Homo sapiens: one gene and its partner. The protein of the gene in region 2 purifies or fractionates together with the protein of the main gene of each other region. This does not show direct contact. Each region holds a gene or a part of one and is shown on either strand. Other genes may lie near its edges. The genes, in order: KIF14 and MPDZ.

Region 1 (4,080 bases), on a different chromosome or scaffold from region 2:
GAAATAAATGTATCTTTTAAAGTATTGAATAATAAATGGCACTGTTACTTTATTCCATTCTCATGTAATAGGATGACAGACTTTGAAAATTAATTGAAAATTCTGATTTCTTTTGAAAACAGTAATTACTATTGTATTTTGGTCTTGCTTATAGAAATAGAGTTAAGCACTGGTGAGGAAATTAAACTCTCTTTCTTAAAGAGAAGATTCTGGCAATTAAAATCATATTGACTGAGCCTTACTGCCATTGAGCCTGTTAATGTATTATTTTAAATATTAACTTTATTTATACAGAAAAGTTTCAGAAGGCAAGTACAAGAAGAAAACTTTGAATACCAAGATTTCAAGAGGATGGTTAATCGTGCTCCAGAATTCTTAAAGTTAAAACATTGCTTAGAGAAAGCTATTGAAATTATTATTTCTGCACTGAAAGGTATGATTCTCCAAATGGAGTTTATAATCAGAATTTTATATTTTAAGGAACCTTAGACATCTTTCCTTTTTTTTTTTGAGATGGAGTCTCGCTCTGTCACTCAGGCTGGAGTGCAGTGGCTCGATTTCAGCTCACTGCAACCTCCGACTCCTGGGTTCAAGCGATTCTCCTGCCTCAGCCTCCCAAGTAGCTGGGATTACAGGCATATGCCACCATGCCTGGATAATTTTTGTATTTTTAGTAGAGATGGGGTTTCACCATGTTGGCCAGGCTGGTCTCGAACTCCTGACCTCAAACAATTCACCCACCTTGGCCTCCCAAAGTGCTGGGATTACAGGCATGAGCCACAGTCCCCGGCTGACATCTTTCCTTTTTATTTCTAACCTTTTCATTATTTTAGTCATTAACTGAAGCCTACCCAATGCTACTTCACTGATATTAGTTACCCATATAGGAACTTGTATTTATAATTAAATTCCCACTTAATGTATGTATCAGTACTTCTACCTAAATAATTAGATCCTGAAAAACCAAGTGCTCATCTAGCAAATAAACACTTTAGTTGACTAATCTTAAGTAGTTTGGAATTGTTTTGATAGGGTCACTTTGACTTAAAAGATATCTAGAGTCTATAAAAGTCATAAATACCTGATGAAAACTGAAAAGGCTAATTAACTTTTCCCTCCTCTCTTGCATATAGGATGCCATAGTGATATAAATCTTCTCCAGACTTGTGTTGAAAGTATTCGCAACTTGGCCAGTGATTTTTACAGTGACTTCAGTGTGCCTTCTACTTCTGTTGGCAGCTATGAGAGTAGAGTAACTCACATTGTCCACCAGGAACTAGAATCTCTAGCTAAGTCTCTCCTCTTTTGTTTTGAATCTGAAGAAAGCCCTGATTTGTTGAAACCCTGGGAAACTTATAATCAAAATACCAAAGAAGAACACCAACAATCTAAATCAAGCGGGATTGACGGCAGTAAGAATAAAGGTGTACCAAAGCGTGTCTATGAGCTCCATGGCTCATCCCCAGCAGTGAGCTCAGAGGAATGCACACCCAGTAGGATTCAGTGGGTGTGAATACTGATGTGTAGGCACTTTTATGACCACCCATGAAAGAAAAAGAACACTTGCTCGGTAATTTTCTTTATGCAGGAGAGTTTAAGAGAAATCAGCACAGATATTTCAAAAAAGTCCATGTCTTTTTATCTTTAAAATATCTATTTATCAAAGGCCAGACACAGTGGCTCACGCCTGTAATCCCAGCACTTTGGGAGGCGGGCAGATCACAAGGTCAGGAGTTTGAGACCGGCCTGGCCAACATGGCGAAACCCCGTCTCTACTAAAAATACAAAAATTTGCTGGGCATGGTGGCGCGTGCCTGTAATCCCAGCTACTAGGGGGGCTGAGGCAGGAGGATCGCTTGAACCTGAGAGGCAGAGGTTGCAGTGAGCCAAGATCATGCCACTTTACTCCAGTCTGAGCAACAGAACGAGACTTAGTCAAAATAAATAAATAAATAAATAAATAAATAAATAAATAAATAAATAAAATATATTTTTATCTTTAAAGTGTTTAACATTGGTATACTGTCTGTAGTTGGTTCATTAGTCGTTTATAAAGGGTTATTTTCTCATGAGTGGAAACCTGAACAATCAGTTACCTTTGTGCCTATGCCTTCTCTCTCCTCAGACAGCTGGGATGTTTATGGTGAAATGGCCTGTACAAGTTTAACTAAGACAACTTAACTTGCATTGTTAATCAAAAATTCTTTTCTCAAAGGGTTAACTGGTTGCCATTTTGAATAGTATGTTCAAGGGTGTAGCTTCCTGTTTCTTTCCAAATTATAAGTAGCTACCTAAATATAGTATAATTATATATTAATAATATGGCTTGCTGGCACAGTAGTTTACCCTGTTATCTGTGTTTCATAATGGGGGCTGTATGAATATTATTTAAAACTAATAAAATGTTGCCAGAATTATACTAAACTGTTGGATGAGATTAGGAGATCAGAGGCTGGACCTTCTCTTGATAATGCTTGTTTTGTTAAAGGTATAATGAAATAATTTGTATATGATTTGATGAAGATTAAAGACCCTTATTTTCCACAGCTTTAAAAAAAAACCTTTATTTATGATCAAGTAATAAAGATAATATTCTACTTGTGGGATCTTACATTACGGAAATAGTTTGACGTTTTTGACCTCAAGAGTATGTATAATTTGAAGAGATACTTTGTAACTATGCTTGGGTGATATTGAGCAGTTCCTAAAGAATAATTCATTTAAAAAAAAAGAAGAAAAAAAAAGAAGAATTCATTTAAATAACCTGATCCTTTCATTTGCCCTTTTCGAATTTACAGATACTACTTGTACATTTGGCATAACTAGTTGAAATTGGCCATTCGTACCATGAATAAATCTGATAGTTTCCTTGTTAGGAAGAGATTGTAAGTAAATACAGTCATTGCAGTCAGAACAGTATTAGTGAACCTTGTGTGGTGTTTTCAAGCTCTTTAAAATGGTACAATGTAGCACATTTGCTTTCATTTCTTTTTTTATTTTTGGCATTTGACCTTGTATTCTTTCTGAAGCTCTATATGTGTTTTTATTAGTCAATAATCTGGCAAGTAGCACTTTGCCTGTGCAGTTTGCTGGAGTGTAGATGTACATATGAGGATTTCCCGGGAGGTGCACTTCTTTGAAGAACTTCCTAAAGTACCTGTATAGTAGTTTTCATCTTAATATTCAGTATTTAATCTTCAGTTTGTGCTTTGTAAACTCATGACTTAATTGGTCAGAAACTTTTTAGTGTCTTTATAAAATTTTGTATACATATTTATACTAAACACATTGTGATACTGTATTTGAATGAATGGTGAAAAAATATTTGCTATTGGAATTATGTGCACTGACAAGAAATGTTATAAAGAGAATGCCTTTAATAAATCTTTTCAGCATTAGAATTGCTTCGTGGTCTATGCTTTTTTATTTTACTGATTTTCTTTGTTTATTTTACTCTTCATTCAGAATAGCTCTGCCTTGATAATAGCTAGGCTAGTGTTGCAAATCAAGTTAATAATTAGGAAACACTAAACAAATATTAATATTGCCATAACAACTATTTTTTTTTAACATTGTTCTGCCTCTCTTTAGTTGATTATGCCTGGAATAGATTTATCACCATGTGGTATGTGTAAAGAGCATGAGCTTTGGAGTTTGACATATTTTTCACACGTTTGGAGTGTGAATCCCAGCTGGACTGCTTAGTAACTACATGACCTTAGACATGTTACTGTCTTCACTCCCATTCCTTCATCTGCAGAAAGAAAAGTAATACCCACCTCATGGACTATCTATCTATGAGCACTTAGTGAGAAAAATGTGGGAATAACTGCTGGCAAGTAGTAGACTGTTAGTGAATTTATTTTCTGTCCTTTTCATTACCAGCTACAAAACCCTTGTTATGTATATAAGATCACACTTGGTGCAGGCATATGCCATTTATAACATTCTGCCAATGTGCCAAATTGTATTGCAGTCCTTTATGGCATACCTGAAAATATATCTGCCGTCATTTTGTTCCATGATAATAAATGGACAATAAAGATAACTAAACATTATCTTACTGCTCTTAAGGTATAA
Region 2 (3,814 bases):
CATTGAGCGCCTAAATTTACAATGATTGGTTAACAACTTTGAGTTGTTACAATATGCAGTTTCTTCTATTCGTTTTGTGTAACTAAGAATCACGGAATTCTTATATTTTAGAACTAAATAGAACCTTTGTGATAAAATAATCTATCATTTTACAGATAAGATGAATGAGAGGGAAATGCACGTTTGTTAGCTAATTTGGTACAAAACTAGTAGAACAGAGTTCCCCTCATTCCTTGCTCAGTGTTCAAGTTGGACTTGTCATGTTTATTAATACAAATAATTTTGATTATGATTTTGTCCATCTGAATACACTTGAATAGTTCTTGACCACACAAAAGAGCAACTTACAATATTACTGCATTAACAGCATTTGAGAAAAACATATACAGGCAGGATACTTCTCTTTCTACAATGTCATCTTCCTCTCATCTATGAGGAGTCTATGAATCTTTAGTGCTAGAAAAAATTGTGGAGGTAAAAAATATTAAGCTTTCCATAATGATGTTGTCCAAAGTTCCTTTAGCTGTAACTATGGACACCATATGTGCAGTTAGACATGATAAAAACCAATTTTAAGTTGTAAATCTTGAACAGTATATAACAAAGCTTTTCCACAGTAAAAAGAACAAAAAAAATGCTTGCTGCTTATTTGTGCACCACTGAAAATTCTTATTTATTCACTTTAATTCTGCATTTACACAAAAATGCTGTAATAAAATATCTGTACACTACTTCTGTTACAAATATAGATATTTAAAGTGACTTTATATATTCTAATGTAGGAGTTTCACGCTCTAAAATGGGAATGAACACATGATAATTCCTCACCAGTTGTCTCAATAAACAGCTCCATCTGTTTCCCTTAGTCTTAAACTATTGTATTATAAGATGTTAATATAAGTCAATGAAATGAAGTTATGTTAATCCCCTTAATTTTTCTATCAATTTACTAATGGCATACAACCAAAATAATTAGTAACACATTGTTCTCTGTCATTAAGATTAATATGAATTGAAAACCAATTGCACAGCACACTAACACATTTTTAATGTTGCATCGGTTGTTAAAACCAGCACTAAAGATTCTGGAACCCTTCTATGTTCCTCTATGGTTAGCAGCATAGTTGCTTTCTAGAAAAACCATAGTCAACATGGGGTGGCATCATCATTTACTTATAGCAACATGAAAATATTTTACAAAAGGTCAAAAATAAGAATGAAAATTGAAATGTGCATTAAATATAATTTCTTTATAAAATTTAGGGACATTGCTTCATGTATTTGCCATTTACTCAATTGTAGAAACCAATTTTAGCAGGAAAAATATATATGCATATTAGAGGTGGGGAGATGCAATGTTTTTATAATACTGTTGAAAATTTTAAAATACTGACAGTATTTTTAAAGATTTTCATTAGAAAACCTTTTTTTCTTTTTTTAGTTTGGGGTGGGGAGAGGAGGTAGATTGCCAAATTGAGGCATTTTTTTTAAACTCCCCGAGATTTTCTTCTTTATTTTATATTTTCATTTTTCATCCTAATTTACTGAAGCCATTTTCTTTGGTTAGCTTTAGAATTATCTTTCTTTATACTAACCAGCTTAGCATGTAATAATTCTTGCCCATGTGACTACAAAACATTAGATATCTCCACAAATAAAAACGAGATTCACCTACACAAATATTCCTTCTCTTTAAGTTCACAAAATGCAAGAAGAAAAGAAAAATGATGTTAGGTTGTCAGTAAGGAAAGCATTTCTAGATGAGAAAAAGAAACTTAAGTGTTATTTCCCCCCTACAGTTTTGAAGACCCGGCTGAACACAGCATAAAAATTGTCAGGACCAGTGCATTCTCTTTACAGTAGGAGGTGAGCTAGGGGTTGGGTTGGTTCAATTCTGGCAGCCAATTCAAGAGAGAACCATCAAAGTGACAGTGCCTTTTGTCCGTTTAAGGATGGCAACAGCTTCTTCATGGGTGACTCCTTCTAGACTCTGCCCATTGACAGCAATGATCTGATCGCCCCTTTTCAGACGTCCGTCTTCAGAGGCTGCTCCCTGCAAATTATAAAGTAGACTTGTTTATTTCTCAAAAAATGCTGCCTTGCAACTCACAACAGAAAAAGATCTCAACAGGAATGTAAATTGCTCTGCTTGTACACACACACTGCTCCCAGTGCTCCATGGGTGCTCTAAGCCATTAAGCAATGATGAACATAGACAAAGAAGGTCTTTCTCCTAAATGGTTTTAGCATTGAGATACCAATTTGAGAGAGAATTTAGCAGTCGATAGATCAGTTGGATGGGTTTTTGGCTGTTCAGCACAGCAGTTGGTGGGAACACAAATTAATAAAGAATATTTGGGAATTTGCCTAGTAGGAATGATTCAATAGAATCCAGGATTTTCTATCCTGTAAATAAGACCTACAGAAAGAAGGTAAAGGATTAGGTAGGAACAAAAACAGTTTTACAGGACAAGGGCTTGGGGGATGACAAAATCCAAAGGTCTGCAAAAGCACAAAGCCACCTGAACATTCCCTATGGCAGGATAAGGCATAAGTTCTAAATTTAAAACCCACTGCTATTTCTTTTTGTGGTTTTGAAAAAGCTATTCAAGCTGTCTTAGTTCTTACTTCCCAAGGGTAGAGAGATTCTTCATATTCCTTATGGACCCTAAATGATTAAGATTAAATACAGACATTGGTGTTAGAAAAAGAACCCCATCTTAAAGCACGCTTATAGAAGACAATTATGCAATTAAATATAAAATTAAAAATATGGAAAAGTTAATGAGGAATCCATAATGATGAAATTCTTAAAATATGTTCTAACTAGCATGCCTTAAATAAATTGTTCCTAGGCTGAGGAAAAGGACTGTATGACTCTTCTATTCACTAGCAAATGCTGTTTGTATTTTTGGACATACCGATAGCTTTTTTAAAAATCTTATAAATTAAGCCTATAGCTAGCTTGTTGTAGGTACAACACTTTAAATTGGCTAAAAAAAAGATCTTTTCCAAAATAATAAAATAAAATATCCATAAAGAACTATACCACTAATCCAAAGGCCCTGTATCAAATTTTTAAACACGTTTGACTAAGTTTTGTTTCTTTTGACACTGTAAAATTTTGAGATTCTAAATTTTTCCCTGCAGAAAATCTTGTCGAATTTTGTAGCCCCTGAAAAACGACTTAACATATTAACAATAATTACATGGGTTTAAATTATTTTAATAGCTTTACCAGTACTGCAATATCTTTATTCTTATTCTAAACCTTCTTAAGCTAGAATAGGTATTATATAATTATAACTATACAGTCTTTTTAATTGAATCCCTTGATTGCAAATCGCTGACTTATTATAGATGATAGGGCTGCTGGATACTCCCTACATTTTTTCAGTAGTTATTTTTGTTTTATTCAATGAAATTAAATTTATAAAATAAATGCTTATTAATTTTCATGTGTACTTTATGTACTTCTCTATAACTATTTTATATTTCACAACAAAAAAATGCAAACAGAAATACCAGTGCTCTACAGCATACTTATTTAAAATGTCCCATTTTCAAAAGACGATCATGTGCAATTTGTGTTCAAAGAAAAAAAAATAGGCTTTACTAACCAAAGTTCATTAATATTTTTATGTATATTGTTGAGTTTCCATGGAGTTTCAATTTGAGCCTATTTTCCTTTAAATATAATGAAACCTCAAATTGGACAAAAATATTTAATGACCTGTTCCTGTAGGGAGTTTTGAAAAGAAATGATCAACTGTTAACCATTTGGCATTACCTCAGGCCATAAACTAATAAGCCA

The links.
Region 1: the proteins of MPDZ (region 2) and KIF14 purify together in Homo sapiens (affinity purification with mass spectrometry; 2 studies listed by BioGRID and IntAct, with this or other methods). This does not show direct contact.

The regions. Positions count from the first base shown.
Region 1 is NC_000001.11:200,550,821-200,554,900, reverse strand, and holds the end of KIF14 (kinesin-like protein KIF14), read left to right. Parts: intron 1-294; coding exon 295-433; intron 434-1,133; coding exon 1,134-1,513; 3' UTR 1,514-3,401; downstream 3,402-4,080. UniProt on the Homo sapiens protein: Microtubule motor protein that binds to microtubules with high affinity through each tubulin heterodimer and has an ATPase activity. Plays a role in many processes like cell division, cytokinesis and also in cell proliferation and apoptosis.
Region 2 is NC_000009.12:13,105,059-13,108,872, forward strand, and holds the end of MPDZ (multiple PDZ domain protein), read right to left. Parts: intron 2,054-3,814; coding exon 1,907-2,053; 3' UTR 649-1,906; downstream 1-648. UniProt on the Homo sapiens protein: Member of the NMDAR signaling complex that may play a role in control of AMPAR potentiation and synaptic plasticity in excitatory synapses. Promotes clustering of HT2RC at the cell surface.